Linked DNA regions of Homo sapiens: region 2 is linked to region 1. Evidence: fine-mapped expression QTL. Tissue or cell type: anterior cingulate cortex. Region 1 holds a variant in brackets; the other region holds the start of a gene. All regions are shown on one strand. Distances are from middle to middle.

Evidence for each region. PIP is the estimated chance that this variant, and not a neighbour inherited with it, causes the effect.
Region 2: it holds the start of MED24, and the variant in region 1 is fine-mapped to the expression of MED24 in anterior cingulate cortex (GTEx, PIP above 0.99).

The regions. Positions count from the first base shown.
Region 1 is chr17:40,016,838-40,025,019 of GRCh38, reverse strand. CSF3 (colony stimulating factor 3) reads right to left here. Exons shown (of 5, transcript NM_172219.3): 5 at 7,207-8,182. The coding sequence ends at 8,061. It overlaps MED24 (mediator complex subunit 24), which reads left to right. Exons shown (of 26, transcript NM_014815.4): 20 at 1,625-1,889; 21 at 2,194-2,375; 22 at 2,536-2,626; 23 at 2,966-3,065; 24 at 4,667-4,747; 25 at 5,087-5,235; 26 at 5,375-5,916. The coding sequence ends at 5,491. Among named protein-coding and RNA genes, the nearest start is that of MIR6884, 5.5 kb to the left of the region's middle. The variant T/C (reference allele first, on the strand shown) is at 3,124.
Region 2 is chr17:40,051,184-40,059,355 of GRCh38, reverse strand. MED24 (mediator complex subunit 24) reads left to right here and starts at 4,948. Exons shown (of 26, transcript NM_014815.4): 1 at 4,948-4,995; 2 at 5,721-5,887; 3 at 5,976-6,058. The coding sequence starts at 5,758. RefSeq lists an enhancer at 4,689-4,748.

The DNA.
Region 1 (8,182 bases):
TCACGCCTGCAATCCTAGCACTTTGGGAGGCTGAGGTGAGTGGCTCACTTGAGGTCAGGAGTTTAAGGCCAGCCTGACCAACATGGTGAAACCTTGGCCTTACTAAAAATATAAAAATGAGCAGGGAGTGGTGGCAGGCGCCTGCAATCCCAGCTACTTGGGAGGCTGAGACAGGAGAATTGCTTGAACCCAGGAAGCGGAGGTTGCAGTGAGCCGAGATCACGCCACTGCACTCCAGCCTGGGTGAAAGAGTGAGACTCTGTCTCAAAAAACAAAACAAAAACAAAAGAAACCTCTATTGTGTGGCTATACCACATCTTGATCCCTCCTCTGTCAGTGGACACTTCAGTTGCTTCCACCTTTGGGCTATAGTGAATAGTGCTGCTGTGAACATGGGTGTTTACCAGCTAATACGTTTTGGGTGTTGCCATGTCTTTATGGCAACGTTGAGGATGTCTTTATTTATTTATTTATGTACTTATTTTTGAGACGGCGTTTCGCTCTGTCACCCAGGCTGGAGTGCTGTGGCACTATCTAGGCTCACTGCAATCTCCGCCTCCTGGGTTCAAGAGATTCTCCTGCCTCAGCCTCCCGAGTAGCCGGGATTACAGGCATGTGCCACCACACCCGGCTAATTTTTGTATTTTTGGTAGAGATGGGGTTTCACCATGTTGGCCAGGCTGGTCTCGAACTCCTGATTTCAGGTGATCTTCCCGCCTCAGCCTCCTGAAGTGCTGGGATTATAGGCATGAGCCACCGCACCGGGCCTGAGGATGTCTTAATAGGGAGAAGGGGAAGCATTGAGCTGAATGAGGTTTGGACGGTCTGGAAAAGCACATCTCGTTTTCCCCTTGCCTCCTCCTTTTTTCCTTTCTTCTCTCATTTCTCCACCACCTTCCCCCCCGCCCTACCAAGTAGGGAGCTTTTGCTCTGGTGTAACCCATTCTAAGCACCCTAAATCCTATCTGGGTAAGGGGTAGTGAGAAGTCTGTGGCTCCATTGTGCAGGTGGGAAAAGTGGCTCTAAAGGTCATAGCAACTTTCCCAGAGCCACCCTGCATTCCAGGAACAGTCAGCACTCGGCCCGGGTCTGTATTCACTTCCGAAGCCTCTTTCCATGAGAAAATTCCTGGATATACACTTCTATCTGCCCAGCTACCAGGGGCCGGGAAGAGTCCTGTGGGGCAGCCCTTGGGCCTCTCCTGGAAGGAACAGTTTACTTTGGGAGGAGGCCAGGGCTGGGCGGGGACCCCCAAGCACTCAGCCTAGGGGGAAGTGATTGTGTTTATTTATGTGGCAGGTTGGCAGGGCCCAGGCCTGGGGGATGGGGGAAGTTGGAGAATAAAAGAAAATGTGAATATCTGGCTGGAATGGCCAGGGGGAGGAAAGTCCCTCCCCAGTCCCTATTTATAGGCTTTGTGTCCTGCAGGTGAGAGACCTGCCAGGAGCAGAGCAGGGGCCAGGTCACCCCGGGGTATACCGTCCCCCAGCGCAAAACTGGGTTAATGCCTCAGGGAGATTTCCGTAACCTAAGTCCAAGGGAAAGTCTGGCATGGGTGTTCCCTCCTCTCCCTCCCCACCCTACAGTGGCACCTGAGCCTCAGGTTCTCTCGGCCCTCCCCCAGGGTGGTGATCATGAACTCGATCCTGGAGCGCATGTGTGCCGACGTGCTGCAGCAGACAGCCACGCAGATCAAGTTTCCCTCCACCGGGGTGGACACAATGCCCTACTGGAACCTGCTGCCCCCCAAGCGGCCCATCAAAGAGGTGCTGACGGACATTTTTGCCAAGGTGCTGGAGAAGGGCTGGGTGGACAGCCGCTCCATCCACATCTTTGACACCCTGCTGCACATGGGCGGCGTCTACTGGTTCTGCAACAACCTGATTAAGGTACTTGGGCTGGAGTGGCTGTGGGCCGACATGGGTCCTGTCCCCTGGCTCCCCACACCTGGCCTGGTCTGCCAGGCTTCCCTGAGAGGCTGCCGTGAGCCAGGTGGCCTCCCCGGAATGCCTCGCCTCAGAGTTGCCTCCTTGGGGAGCTCTGGCCAGAGACTGGGATTCAGCCTGAGGGGCGGAGCAACATCTGGGGCCCCCTCTGCGGGCCTTACTGGACAGCCATGCTGGGGTGGCAGGGTGTAGGAGCCCCAGATCCCGGGCCCCTGGCTCCTGAACTGCCCCCTTTCCTGCGCACTAGGAGCTGCTGAAGGAGACGCGGAAGGAGCACACGCTGCGGGCAGTGGAGCTGCTCTACTCCATCTTCTGCCTGGACATGCAGCAAGTGACCCTGGTCCTGCTGGGCCACATCCTACCTGGCCTGCTCACTGACTCCTCCAAGTGGCACAGCCTCATGGACCCCCCGGGCACTGCTCTTGCCAAGTAAGATTCTCTTCAGAGCTTGCCCTGCTCCGGCCACCCAGGGTCAAGCACCCCTCGCCTGGTGCCACCCTGGGAGACTGGGCTTTGGGGAGCCCAGTCAGACACAGAAAGCTCCTGGGGCACCTCTCACTGTCCCCCTTTTTCTGGAACCCTTTGCCAGGCTGGCCGTGTGGTGTGCCCTCAGTTCCTACTCCTCCCACAAGGGACAGGCGTCCACCCGCCAGAAGAAGAGACACCGCGAAGACATTGAGGTAGGCCCCCCAGCTGCCCTCGCCGGCTTCACTTGTTCACCGGTTTGTTACAGCATTTCCTAAGGATTCCCCAGGCAAAGGGAAGCAGTTGTGGCCCCTGCCCTTGGGGCAGCTGTGCCTGGGCATGATTGGTCAGGAATCTGCATGGGTGATTTGTGTGGCCCCAGCTTGCCCATGGGCACAAGGGGCCTGTCAGATTGTGGGAGGGGTTGAGCAGAGAGGGGCTGAGGCCCTGCTAGCCATGCTGACCTCGCTCAAATCGGAGCTCAAGCTCTTTTCCCTGACAGCTGGAAACTGGGGGGTTTAGGGGTGTATAACAGTGACTTTCACTCCCTCTAGGATTATATCAGCCTCTTCCCCCTGGACGATGTGCAGCCTTCGAAGTTGATGCGACTGCTGAGCTCTAATGAGGACGATGCCAACATCCTTTCGAGCCCCAGTGAGTGTGTGGGCTGGCCGCGCGCCGCTCCTTTTCCTGGGAATTCACTCCCCGATGC[T/C]GCCACTCTGCCGCTGCCCCAGCTGCAGGCATCTTTGCAGCTGGTCAGAGAGGGTGTGGCAGGGACCTGCTGTTCTAGCCCCCAAGGGGGTGCTCTGTGTCCTGCCCCTGGAGAAGAGGTTGCTGTTCTCACTCCCTGAGGGTTGAAGCTCCTCTGCCCAGGTCCAGCCCAGCCCACAGTTGTTCCCCCACAGCCCTCCTGCCCCTCCCTTACCCCAGGGTTGAGGGGATGACAAGCTACCCAAGTGAGTGAGTTCACTGCCTCAGGCACAGCCTGTGCCATTGACTCACCAGCTCTGACCTTCCTTCCTTCCTTCCCCCAAAACATGCCCGGAGAGGCCCGGGCTGGGGCATGGGGCTACTCCCCACCTTCCTGCCTAAAGAGCACACCCCCCACCAACCACTTCCCTGGAGGTCATCCTTTTCACTGTCCCCTCCTCCCTGCCAGGCTTACTGCCAAGGGTTCCTTCTGTGGCATTTTTCCTGTTTCCAGAGATTTCTCCTGAGCCTGAACTTTTCTCTGAAGCCTTTTAGGAACTAGGGGACCAACTATACACTTGATCAGAAGAAAGATGCTAGGTTTGCCAGCTACAAGTGCTGTGACCTTTAGCTAGCGACTGAGCCAGCCCCCGTCTGGGTCTCCTCATCTGTAAATGGGGTGTTGTGAGGAGTAAGCAGCTTAGGAAGTACCAAGATCGGCCCCTGGCCCTGTGTGCTCACCACATGTTAGTTTTTCTCTCTCATTCCATTGGGATCTCTGTATCTGAGGTCCCTCTGTGCCCTTTTTTTGTTTTGTTTTTTGTTTGTTTGTTTGTTTGTTTGTTTGAGTTGGAGTCTCCCTCTGTTGCCCAGGCTGGAGTGCAGTCGCACGATCTCAGCTTACTGCAACCTCCGCCTCCTGGGTTTAAGCAATTTTCCTGTCTCAGCCTCCTGAGTCTCTGGGACTACAGGCGCCTGCCACAACGCCTGGCTAATTTTTGTATTTTTAGTAGAGACGGGGTTTCACCATATTGGTCAGGCTGGTCTCGAACTCCTGAACTCAGATGATCCACCCGCCTTGGCCTCCCAAAGTGCTGGGATTACAGGCGTGAGCCACCACGCCCAGCCTGTTTTTCTGAGACACGGTTTTGCTCTGTTGCTCAGGCTGGAGTGCAGTGGCACCATCTCGGCTCACTGCAGCCTTGTTCTCCTAGGCTCAAGCAGTCTGCCTCAGCCTCCCGAGGAGCTGGGACTACAGGCGTTGGCACCACACCCAGCTAATTTTTGTATTTTTTGTAGAGATGAGGTCTCGCTAGTTGCCAAGGCTGGTCTCAAACTCCTGGACTCAAGCGATCCTCCTGCCTCGGCCTCCCAAAATGCTGGGATTACAGGTGTGAGCCACTGTACCTGGCCTCCCTTTGTGCTCTTGATCTCAGGGTCTTCTCTGGGCTCTCCATGTACCAGTTACCTCCGATGGGTGAAGGTCGGGTTGGGGCATCCCCGGGGAGCACCACTTTTGCACTCGGCAGGCTGTTTCCCAGCGCTCCATCTGCTCCGTCCCACAGCAGACCGATCCATGAGCAGCTCCCTCTCAGCCTCTCAGCTCCACACGGTCAACATGCGGGACCCTCTGAACCGAGTCCTGGGTGAGTTCCCCACCCCTGCTGCCGAACCTGGGGCTAAGCTGGACGAGTCTCTCTTCTCATGGAGGCTGGGAGACCTTGTCAGCTGGAAGGGGCCTTGCGGTGCCCCTCCCTTCCCTCTCCATGCCCCTCATTGTTGGCTGTCCTGGCCCCCAGGCTCCTGTCTAGTTCCCCCTCCTCCCCTCCCCAATTGCCTTTTATATTTTCTCTCTCTGACACCCCATTTTGGGGACATGCTCAGCATGTGTTTCTTTTCCCTTTTCAGTCCCACCTTCTCCCAGAGTGTGACCTCACCCACTCTCATGGAACTCCCTCCTGTCACTCTCCCCCCACTCTCTACAGCCAACCTGTTCCTGCTCATCTCCTCCATCCTGGGGTCTCGCACCGCTGGCCCCCACACCCAGTTCGTGCAGTGGTTCATGGAGGAGTGTGTGGACTGCCTGGAGCAGGGTGGCCGTGGCAGCGTCCTGCAGTTCATGCCCTTCACCACCGTGAGTACCACCTTCCCGGCTCTCCTGCTGGTGCTGGGGCCTCGGGGCAGCCCTTAGAGCAGGGAGGGGCCTCCTTCCCCCTGGGACAGCACACCCACCACCAGCCGTCCCGCAAGCAGCATCTGTCTGTCCGTGGCAGGTGTCGGAACTGGTGAAGGTGTCAGCCATGTCCAGCCCCAAGGTGGTTCTGGCCATCACGGACCTCAGCCTGCCCCTGGGCCGCCAGGTGGCTGCTAAAGCCATTGCTGCACTCTGAGGGGCTTGGCATGGCCGCAGTGGGGGCTGGGGACTGGCGCAGCCCCAGGCGCCTCCAAGGGAAGCAGTGAGGAAAGATGAGGCATCGTGCCTCACATCCGCTCCACATGGTGCAAGAGCCTCTAGCGGCTTCCAGTTCCCCGCTCCTGACTCCTGACCTCCAGGATGTCTCCCGGTTTCTTCTTTCAAAATTTCCTCTCCATCTGCTGGCACCTGAGGAGAGTGAGCAGCCTGGACCACAAGCCCAGTGGTCACCCCTGTGTGCGCCCGCCCCAGCCCAGGAGTAGTCTTACCTCTGAGGAACTTTCTAGATGCAAAGTGTGTATGTGTGTGTGTGTGTGTGTGTGTGTGTGTTTGTGTGTATTTTGTAATATGTGAGGGAAATCTACCTTCGTTCATGTATAAATAAAGCTCCTCGTGGCTCCCTTTGTGACTGTGTGTGCTGTTGGTATTGGTGCCACCCGGGGCAGGGCATAGTGTCCTCTCCCTGGACTCCTGTGCTGTGGCCAGGGAACGGCTCACTCCTGTGGTGAGGAGGAGGAGGAAGAGGAGCAGAGGCGGCAGGGCTCAGGGTCCTATGTGGGCTTGCTCAGCTGGGGAAGGGCCAGGGGAAAGCAGCTTCCCTTCCTTGGAGCCAAGTTGGCTGGCCTGCTGCCCCCTCCCCCAAAGCCAGCTGTACCCTGAAAGGGGAGAGGCTTTGGCTCAGGGCCCCACAGTGCTGGGGCAGGGTGGCCTGCTCTGCTGTCTCCCGAACCTGGTCCAACACCACCCACACTCTGACTAGCCTGGGATTTGATCTGTTGCCTCCAAAAAAGGACTGGGGGATGGGAGGCGGGGGGATGAGGGGCCGGACCTTTCTTTAACCCTTCCTTGCCTGCCTCACACATCTCTGAGCCCCTAGATGGATGACTCCGAGCTGGCAGTGGGAACTTCTGACCCTGCTTTCCGAGGAGCCACGGGCAGGGGAGGTGGGAGGGACTGAGGAGCTGAGGAGGAGAAGGTTTGGGCAGATAGTGGACTGGGGACTGGTGGGGGTACCCCAAAGCCACACAGGAGTCTTTGGCTGCAGGCAGGCCTCACACCTGTGGTGCGGTCGCTGCCCCCCCTGCTTGCCACAGCTCCCCACCCTCCTGGGCTGTGAGCTTAGCGCTCTTCAGCCCAAGGCTGCCACAAGCAGGAAGTGACCAGCTGGGGCGAGTGCAGAGACCGAGTCTGAGGAGAGAAGCTCTGACCCCAGTGGTCACCTTGAACTTGGCTTCCACTTTGTGGGCAACTTGATGGATGGGCTCAAGTTTATGGAAGATGGTAAATGACAAGCCTGGTGCAGATGCTCAGCACTCCCTGGCTTCATCTTGTCTGGCTGTGTCTGGCCTGTTAAGCCCACCCAGACCCCATGCCCTCTCCTTTCCGGGTTCCCATGGTCCCTGTGCCTCTGTCTTCCCTGCCAGGCTTTGGCTGCTCGAGTGCAGATTCCATGTCTGCCTTGTTCCCTGCTGTGTCCCCAGCACTTAGCCCAGCGTCTGCACAGAGTAGGTGCTCAGATAAATATGTGCTAACGGAATGAATGTCAGACGAACTTGAGAACTTTCCTCCTCCTCCCTGGACCTCCTCCCCAGACCTCCTCCCCGACCTCCCTCTGGCCTCTCCCACCCTTCAGCCACCTCCCCAGCCCCTGGCCAGGCACCAGCTGGACTCAAGAAGGAGGAAGGACGTGACTGGAGGCAAACACTTTATTATCCTGAAGTTCAGTTACAATGTGACAGTGGAGGGGACACTGGTGAGTGGGGGGTGAAGAGGTGGAGGGTGACAGTGGAGCTTCCTTTCACACACAGGCCTGACATGATTCCTCCTGTCTGCTCCCTCCCACATCCCCAGTCCCCGTCCAGCAAGGCAAATGTCCAGGCACCTGCCTGGCCCTAAAAAGAGTCACAGTCCTGACCCTCGTGGGGGCAGGGCAGGTGTCCCGAGGCCACCCAGAAAAACAGGAGACGCGTCGGTGATGTTCGGGAGTCAAACCATGTCCCAAAAGTCTTAAGAAGAAAAACGAGATTCCCCAGCAAATTCGTGGGACCCCAGGGCCATGCCTCCCAGCTCTGGCCACCTCTGCTTGTCCAGGGGCCTCACAGCCAAGGGGATGCAGGGGCCGCTGTGCAGTCGGCTGAGGCCAGAGTGAGGGGTGCAAGGACCCAGATGGGGAACACTGCTGTTTAAATATTAAACAGGGATTTCTTGTCTCCCACGTGGGAGACCTGATACTCTCAAGGGTCCCAGGTGGGGACCCTCAGGACCAGGGGCTCACAGCGGCTCATCCCAGTGCCCATTGCAGAGCCAGGGCTGGGGAGCAGTCATAGTAATAAATACTTGGTATTTACCTATCTACCTCCCAGTCCAGGGGATGGGAGGACAGGAGCTTTTTCTCACTGCTACAGGCAGGAGAATGAAACTCAGAAATGCAGGGAAGGACACAGAGGCCTGGGGCTCCGTTCTGCTCTTCCCTGTCTTTAAATATGAGGCTTAAATAGACATAAATATTAAATAGAGATAAATACATGGGATGGGGAGGGCTTGGCTCAGGGCTGGGCAAGGTGGCGTAGAACGCGGTACGACACCTCCAGGAAGCTCTGCAGATGGGAGGCAACCAGGACCCCTCCTGCCCGGCGCTGGAAAGCAGAGGCGAAGGCCGGCATGGCAC
Region 2 (8,172 bases), 34 kb before region 1:
AGGTGGGAGGATCTCTTCAGGTCATGAGTTCAAGACCATCCTGGGCAACATAGTGAGACCTCCATCTCAAAAAAAAAAAAAACCAAAAACAAAAACCCACAAATTATCTGGGTGTTGTGGTGCAGACCTTCAGTTCTGGCTACTTGGGAGGCTGATGCAGGAGATGAGAGACTGGCAAATTAGCAATTACCTGGTAAGAGAAAGTGGCCACTTAATTCTCCCCTTTGTCCCATCAGGCGCTATTGCTATGGGTCACAAAAGAGGGAGCCAGGGAAGGGACCAGGCCTGGCTGAGTCTTGCTTTTGGTAGCTGAGGTGAGAAATGGAAAAGGAAGCTGACACCTTTTCCAGGCTGTCTTTCAGGGTTTCTCCTAATTTTATTCATTAATCTGACACTGTTTTTTTTTTTTGTTTGTTTGTTTTTTCCTGATGGAGTCTTGCTCTGTCACCCAGGCTGGAGTGCAGTGGTGTGATCTTGGCTCACTGAAAGCTTGCCTCCCGGGTTAACACCATTCTCCTGCCTAAGCCTCCCGAGTAGCGGGGACTACAGGCACCCACCACAATGCCTGGCTAATTTTTGTATTTTTAGTAGAGACGGGCTTTCACTGTGTTAACCAGGATGGTCTCGATCTCCTGACCTCATGATCCGCCTGCCTCGGCCTCCCAAAGTGCTGGAATTACAGGCGTGAGCCACCGCACCCAGCCTGACACTTTTTTTTTTTAAGCATTTAATATGTGCCAAGTATTAGATTCCCCAAATGCTCCCAGCTTCTGGTTTCACTTTCCCTTAGAGTCTTCTCATCCTATCTTTGCCAGCAGGAGAGAGGAGAGGAGGGGGAGCAGGGAAGTCTCCTTTACCATCAGAGTTTGGGGCTTACCTTTCCGCAGTTCTCCCACTCCAGTTAAAGGAGGGGATAGGGTAGTATGATATGGAAGCCAAAAGTATAAAGCAGAGCAGCTCTCAGGGCCTGGAGGGAGGGGCCATACAAAGGAAATGGCAGGCTGCCCTCCCTTCCCAGCCACTGTCGGCCTCAGGATCACAGCACTTCTCTTTGTGCTGGGAGTATGGAGAGGGAAGGCATCCTCCAGGGTGTTAGAGGGGAAGCTATTCCAAGAGTTGATTCAAATTCTGCCTTTCACTCTCCTGGGGCAGTGGGAAGACAGAGACAGGCAACTGTGGGGGATCCAGGGGTAGTCCCTGAGTCCCTGAGGTGCAGCCACCTTGCAGACCTCTTTCCCATCATTCCCTCCCCCAGATAGACAGAAAGCAGGGATTTTGATTTGGTGACTGGTATGAGGAGGAGACTGGTTTGGAGCCAGCTGTGTATAAGTGTTTGGGAGTGACTGTCTTTCTTTTCCCATCCACCTGCTGCCCATAGTGGGGGGACCCAGGCAAGCTTCCAGAGGAAAATGTTCCACTTAGGGAAAAGGAATGACTCAGTTTCCCTATGGAGAGAAGGGAAGCTGACACCCTCTGTGCCTTGTATGCTTTACCAACGATTTCAGTGTTTCTGGGTTTTTGGGTCTGGACTCTTGCCACTTTTCTTTATACTGTTTTCTAGCCTAGATAGATAAGGAATGTTCCCTTCCCTTTGGGTACCCAGAACCCTGTTCCTTGCCACCTCTTACCCCACTCTGGCCTAGCTGCTTTTCTGACACTTCTCCAGGGTTGCCATATCACTCTGACTGGTTGACTTCCACCTTCCCCTCTTCTCTCTCTAGCCAAGGTAGGCAACAAGATGAAGAAAGAGGTTGGGGCTCAGGACTAGGAGGGCAGAGATGGGAGTTCGGCCCCTGTCCCTGTTGAGAGGAAATGAACAGCAAAAGAAAGTGGGGTAAGTAGGACGGGGCTTTGAGATGGGCTGGAGGGCTTTTTTTTTTTTTTTTGAGACGAAGTTTCGCTCTTGTTGCCCAGGCTGGAGTGCAATGGTGCAATCTCAGCTTACCGCAACCTTCGCCTCCTGGGTTCAAGCAATTCTCCTACCTCCATCTCCCGAGCAGCTGGGATTACAGGCATGCGCCACCATGCCCGGCTAATTTTGTTTTTTAGTAGAGATGGGGTTTCTCCATGTTGGTCAGGCTGGTCTCGAACTCCTAACCCCAGGTGATCTGCCTGCCTTGGCTTCCCAAAGTGCAGGGATTAGAGGTGTGAGCCACCGCGCCCGGTTGGGGGGCTGTTTTTTTGTACACCCAAAGGAAATGTTAGCATCTCTCTTCACCCTTTGGAGGATTATCATGGGGTCCCGGTCCTGTGCTTGCAGTGAGCCAGAGAGCCCAAGGGGGTCCCTAGGAAGATATTGTGGTGTGGAAGGAAGAGGTGATATAGGAAAGGCTGCCTCTGATGTTTACAGACTAGAGAGGCAGGGAGGTCAAAGTGGATAAACTAAAAATGGTCCTTGCCCAGAGCTAAGGGAGCCTTTGTACATAGGAGTCCAGCCTTTGGGGAAACCTTGCCAAGCCTAGAGAAAGGGCTGCTGGTGGGAGGTGGGGAGACAGAGAAGGCAGATGGCCTGACTACAAAAGCCGCCTCCCTGTCACTGCGAAGTGGGGAGGAGGCACCTCCCTAGAAATCTGCCAGGCTCCCTGCCAGAGGGAATGGTTTGAGCTCAAAATATCACCATCCTCAGGGCCCAAATAGTCCCCAGTCCTGTGTGGACCGGACACACAGTTGACAGCTTCTCTCCAAGAGAGGCAGTTTGGGCTCTGAGGTATGCGACAGGGGCTCCAGGATGATCCAGGAATGGCTCCAGGTGGAGGGCCTTAGGCTGTGGCTACAGGCACAGAATGACAGCAGGGGAGCAGGCAAAGGTAGAGTGAGGGGCCTGGGAGAACAGGGGAAGTCAGATATGTGAGAGACTGAGGAGAAGCAGGGTTTGTGGCAGTCTCAAGTATGAGTGGAGTGGCCGGGGGTCATCTGGAAGGTGAGGTGAGGAATCCGTATTTCCCTCCTTCCTGCTTTAGAAGCTTTGGCAACATATATTTGGCAGCTGTTTTGTATACACACTATTCCCCAATGGTGTCACTTGGGCAGGCACAAAGGGAGCCTAAGAGAGGGGTGTGGATTGAATGTATGGGGAGGAAGAAAGGCCATAGGCAGTACCAACCGCAGGAGGACATGATCTGACCCTCCTTCAGCCACACTCTCCCCTTTGGAACAGAAGTTCTTGACTCCCTGTTTAGACCATTCTCCAGACACCCAGGGCGCTGTAATTCTCTGCCCAAATGGCCACAGTTTTGCTTCCAGAGCCTTAAGTGGGCTGCTCTCCCAGATTTATCCTCCCGAGGACTGATTTTGCCACTCAAAGGGTGAGCAAAGAATGGTTGTTGGAGGCTAGGCACGGTGGCTCATGCCTACAGTCCTAGCACTCTGGGAGGCCAAGGTGGGTGGCTGAGGTCAGGATTTTGAGACCACCCTGGCCGACATGGCGAAACCCTGTCTCTACTAAAAATACAAAAATTAGTCGGATGTGGTGGCACACGCCTGTAATCCCAGCTACTTGGGAGGCTGAGGCAGGAGAATTGCTTAAACCTGGGAGGCAGAGGTTGCAGTGAGCTGAGACTGCGCCATTGCACTCCAGCCTGGGCAACAGAGCAAGCCTCCATCTCAAAAAAAAAAAAAAAAAGAATCTTTGTTGAGGAATACAGATTGAGCTTGAACTTGTGAACTAGGATATTGGGCCCTGGCTAAAGGCCTCCATGTTTATTTATTTATGTATTTTGGTAGAGCTGAGAGTCTCATTATGTTGCCCAGGCTGGATTTGAACTCCCGAGCTCAAGTGATCCTCCTTTCTCAGCCTCCCGAGTAATTTACTCTTATTCCTGGTTGTAAATGTTAGGGATGACCAGTCCATAGCATGGGGAGGGATGAGGGCTATGCATAAGAAGGCTCAGACATTGGAGCCTCCAGAGGTGGGTAACATTTGCTTTCGGGTTTCTCACTGGGGGAAGGAAAGGCTATGGCCAAAGCCCTGGGCATAATTTATATATGGATCTTTGGGATAAGCAAGATTTAAACAACAACAACAACAACAACAACAAGAAACTTAAAAAAACAAGTTTTTAATTTACAGGAAAAAAATGGAAGGTAATAGAGGGTCCCCACATATTCTGCACCCAATTTCTCTTTTTATTAACATCTTAGCATTAGTATTATGCATTTGTAACAACTAATGAACTAATATTGATACATTATTATTAATTAAAGTCCACCCTTTATTTAGATTTCCTTAGTTTTTACCCAGTATTCTTTTTCTCTTCCATGATCGCATTCAGAAAACCACATTACATTTAGTCATCAGGTCTCCTTAGCCCTCTTAGTTGTGACAGTTTCTCAGAATTCCTTTGATTTTGATCACCTTCACCTTAGTTTCCTCTTTACTTTCCCTTGTATCCAAGCTGTATGGAGGGCCTGGAGATTCTGATAGGACTGTAAGATTCGGGGACGGTGATATGTGTGCAACTAAGGCACCTCGGTGTCGCTTTTAGAATATAGTTGTGGAAATGAGAATAGCTCTGGTAGCTCCAGGGGCTTAGGAGAACAGAAAGAGCCCAGGAAAGGAGAAAGACCTTATTGCTGAACGCCACACCCTTGCCCCCACGCCACACCCTTGCCGCACCTACTAACTAGGGGCTAACGAATGAAAGGGTGTCGGAATATGATGGAGAAGCCCGGTCGACAGTGACGTCGTGGGCGACGCCGGGTTGTGAGCGGCCTTTCGAGCTCCCTCGAGTCCCTGAGTCTCTGTAGTGCCTCAGCTCCTGGATGTCCTCCCTTAAAGGAGAAGAACAATGCGGGCCGACTAGACGAGTCCCTTAGTTTCCTCGCCGGCGCAGACAAATACGGTTTCAGTCCAAGGAACTACCATTCCCAGAAGACAGCGGGGCGTTCCTTGCTGCATTTCTATTGGTTGGCGTTTGTTACTCCCAGCCAATAGAAAGTGAGCTTCTTGACAAGTGCCAAAATGGCGATGCCTACCACCTAGAACTGGATTGTGCGGTAGGCTTAAATTTGGGGAGGTGGTGGATGAAAAGGAAATTGGGAGGTATAGTTACAGGGCTGGAGAAGGTGGAGGAAATGAGGGAGCAAATCTGGACTTGGAATGGTGGTGGCCAAGGGACGCTTTTAGAGCTAAGGGCGTAATTAGGCAACCAGGACTGCCTTAACTCCTTGATGCCCTGTTTAATCTATTAGTCCCTTTGATACTTCTTTATTCATTTATTTGAGAGACGGAGTTTTGCTCTTGTTGCCCAGGCTGGAGTGCAATGGTGCGATCTCGGCTCACCCCAACAACCTCCGCCTCCCGGGTTCAAGCGATTCTACTGCCTCAGCCTCCCGAGTAGCTGGGATTACAGGCATGCACCACCAAGCCCGGCTAATTTTGTATTTTTAGTGGAGACGAGGTTTCTCCATGTTGGTCAGGCTAGTCTCGAACTCCTGACCTCCGGTGATTCGCCCGCCTCTGCCTCCCGAAGTGCTGGGATTACAGGTGCGAGCCACTGCGCTCGGCCGATACTTTCTTAGTGCCCCAGTTTAAGGAAGGGCGGTTCAGGAGGAGAGAGTCTGACAGGATCTTACTTTATCCCTTTAGCTCTTTTTCTTTCAAATTCCTCTGTCTCGCTTAAATCTTCCCGCATCTTCTCCTTTCTATTTAATTCTGCCTTCCCCGGTTCTCCTTAGAACCTCATGTCCTTTTCTTTAGCTCCATTTCTTTCACCTCAAAGCTGGCCGCCACCGCTGCCACCTGCTCAGAGTGAAATAATGAAGGTGGTCAACCTGAAGCAAGCCATTTTGCAAGCCTGGAAGGAGCGCTGGAGTGACTACCAATGGGCAATCAACATGAAGAAATTCTTTCCTAAAGGAGCCACCTGGGATATTCTCAACCTGGCAGGTCTCAAGTGAACTGGGAAAGAAAGATGGGAGGGATAAACCCAGAGAAGTTGTAATCACTCAGTTGTGTTTTGCTATTCCTCTTGCAGATGCGTTACTAGAGCAGGCCATGATTGGACCATCCCCCAATCCTCTCATCTTGTCCTACCTGAAGTATGCCATTAGTTCCCAGGTAAGCTTCCCGCAAACCCCCACCAAGAAGTGAGAGTTCTGGGGGTAAAAAACTTGGAGTGCATTTGGGCCCCGGTGGTTCATGGCTGTAATCCCAGCATTGTGGGAGGCTGAGGCAGGCGGATTGCTTGAGCCCAGGAGTTCAAGACCAGCCTGCGTAACATGGCAAAACCCAGTCTCTACCCAAAAATACAAAGAGTTACCCCTGCGTGGTGGTGCCCCTGTAGTCCCAGCTACTTGGAAGGCTGAGGTGGGAGGATCACCTGAGCCCTGGGAGGTCGAGACTGCAATGAGCCATGATCCTGCCACTGCCCTCCAGCCAGAGCAACAGAGTGAGACCCTGTCTCAGGAAAGAAACAAACAAACACAATTTGGGGTGCAGTTGTACAATTGTCAGCTTACTCTTTCTAGATGAAAGAGTAAGATTCTAGATTGATCTGTTTGAACAGATCATTTCAGTGAGTTTCAGTGTTCTCATAAAAATAATACTTCATTTGTTGTGATGAATATTACATTCACTTATTCTGCTGGGAGTGGTAGCAGGTAGCACAGGCCTGTGGCCCCACCTACTCAGAAGGTGGAGGTAGGAGGCTTGCTTGAGCCCAGGAGTTTGAGGCTACAGTGAGCACTGATTGTGCCACTGCACTCCAGCCTGGGCAACAGAACAACACTCCGTCTATTAAAAACAACAACAAGCAAAAGAAAAAAAGAGGATTACATTCACCTATTCTATCAACAAATACTCATGAATGCTTTTATGTGCCAGACAGTGCTTAGCCCCTGGGGAATATAGCTGTGAACAAAACCCGATGTCAGTACACAGAAAATTTAGTGGGTAATATAGACATGTAAATAAGCAGTCACTAGATGGGTTTATGATAAAGGTTAGGATAGAGTACAGATGCTCCTCAACTTACAATGGGGTGATGTGCTGATATACCACTCATAAGTTGAAAATGTACTTAATACACATAACTTGCCAAAGGTCATCTACCTACCTTTTTTTGAGTCAGAGTCTTGCTCTATCGCCCAGGCTGGAGTGCAGTGGCGTGACCTCGGCTCACTGCAACCTCCGTTTCCCGGGTTCAAGCGATTCTCCTACCTCAGCCTCCCGAGTAGCTGGGACTACAGGTGCCTGCCATCACGCCTGGCTAATTTTTGTATTTTTAGTAGAGACAGGGTTTCACTATATTGGCCAGGCTGGTCTTGAACTCCTGACCTTGTGATCCGCCCGCCTTGGCCTCCCAAAGTGCTAGGATTACAGGTGTGAGCCACCGTGCCTGGCCATCTACCTACCGTAAATGTGCTCAGAACACACTAGCTTACAGTTGGGAAAAATCATCTAACACAAAGCCTGTTTGTTTGTTTATTTATTGAGATGGGATTTCGCTCCTGTTGCCCAGGCTGCAGTGCAATGGCTTGATCTCGGCTCACTGCAACCTCTGCCTCCTGGGTTCAAGTGATTCTCCTGCCTCAGCCTCCTGAGTAGCTAGGATTACAGGCGTCTGCCACCACACCCGGCTAATTTTTGTATTTTTAGTAGAGATGAGGTTTTACCATTTTGGCCAGGCTGGTCTCGAACTCCTGACTTCAGGTGATCCACCCACCTCGGCCTCCCAAAGTGCTGGGATTGCAGGCATGAGCCACCACGCCCAGCCTTATTTTTTATTGATTGATTGATTGATTGAGGCAGAGTTTCGCTCTGTCACTAGGCTAGAGTGCAGTGGCGTGATCTTGGCTTACTGCAACCTCTGCCTCCCAGGTTTAAGTGATTCTCGTGCCTCAGCCTCCTGAGTAGCTGGGACTACAGGCGTGTGCCACTATGCCCAGCTAATTTTTGTATTTTTAGTAGAGATGGGGTTTCACCATGTTGGCCAGTATGGTCTTGATCTCTTGACCTCGTGATCCTTCCGCCTCGGCCTCCCAAAGTGCTGGGTTTACAGGCGTGAGCCACTGTGCCCGGCCGCCCAGCCTTATTTTTATTTTTTGAGAAGGAGTCTTACTCTGTCACCCAGGGTGGAGTACAGTGGCACAATCTTGGCTCACTGCAACCTCTGCCTTTCGGGTTCAAGCAATTGTCCTGCCTCAGCCTCCCAAGTAGCTGGGATTACAGGC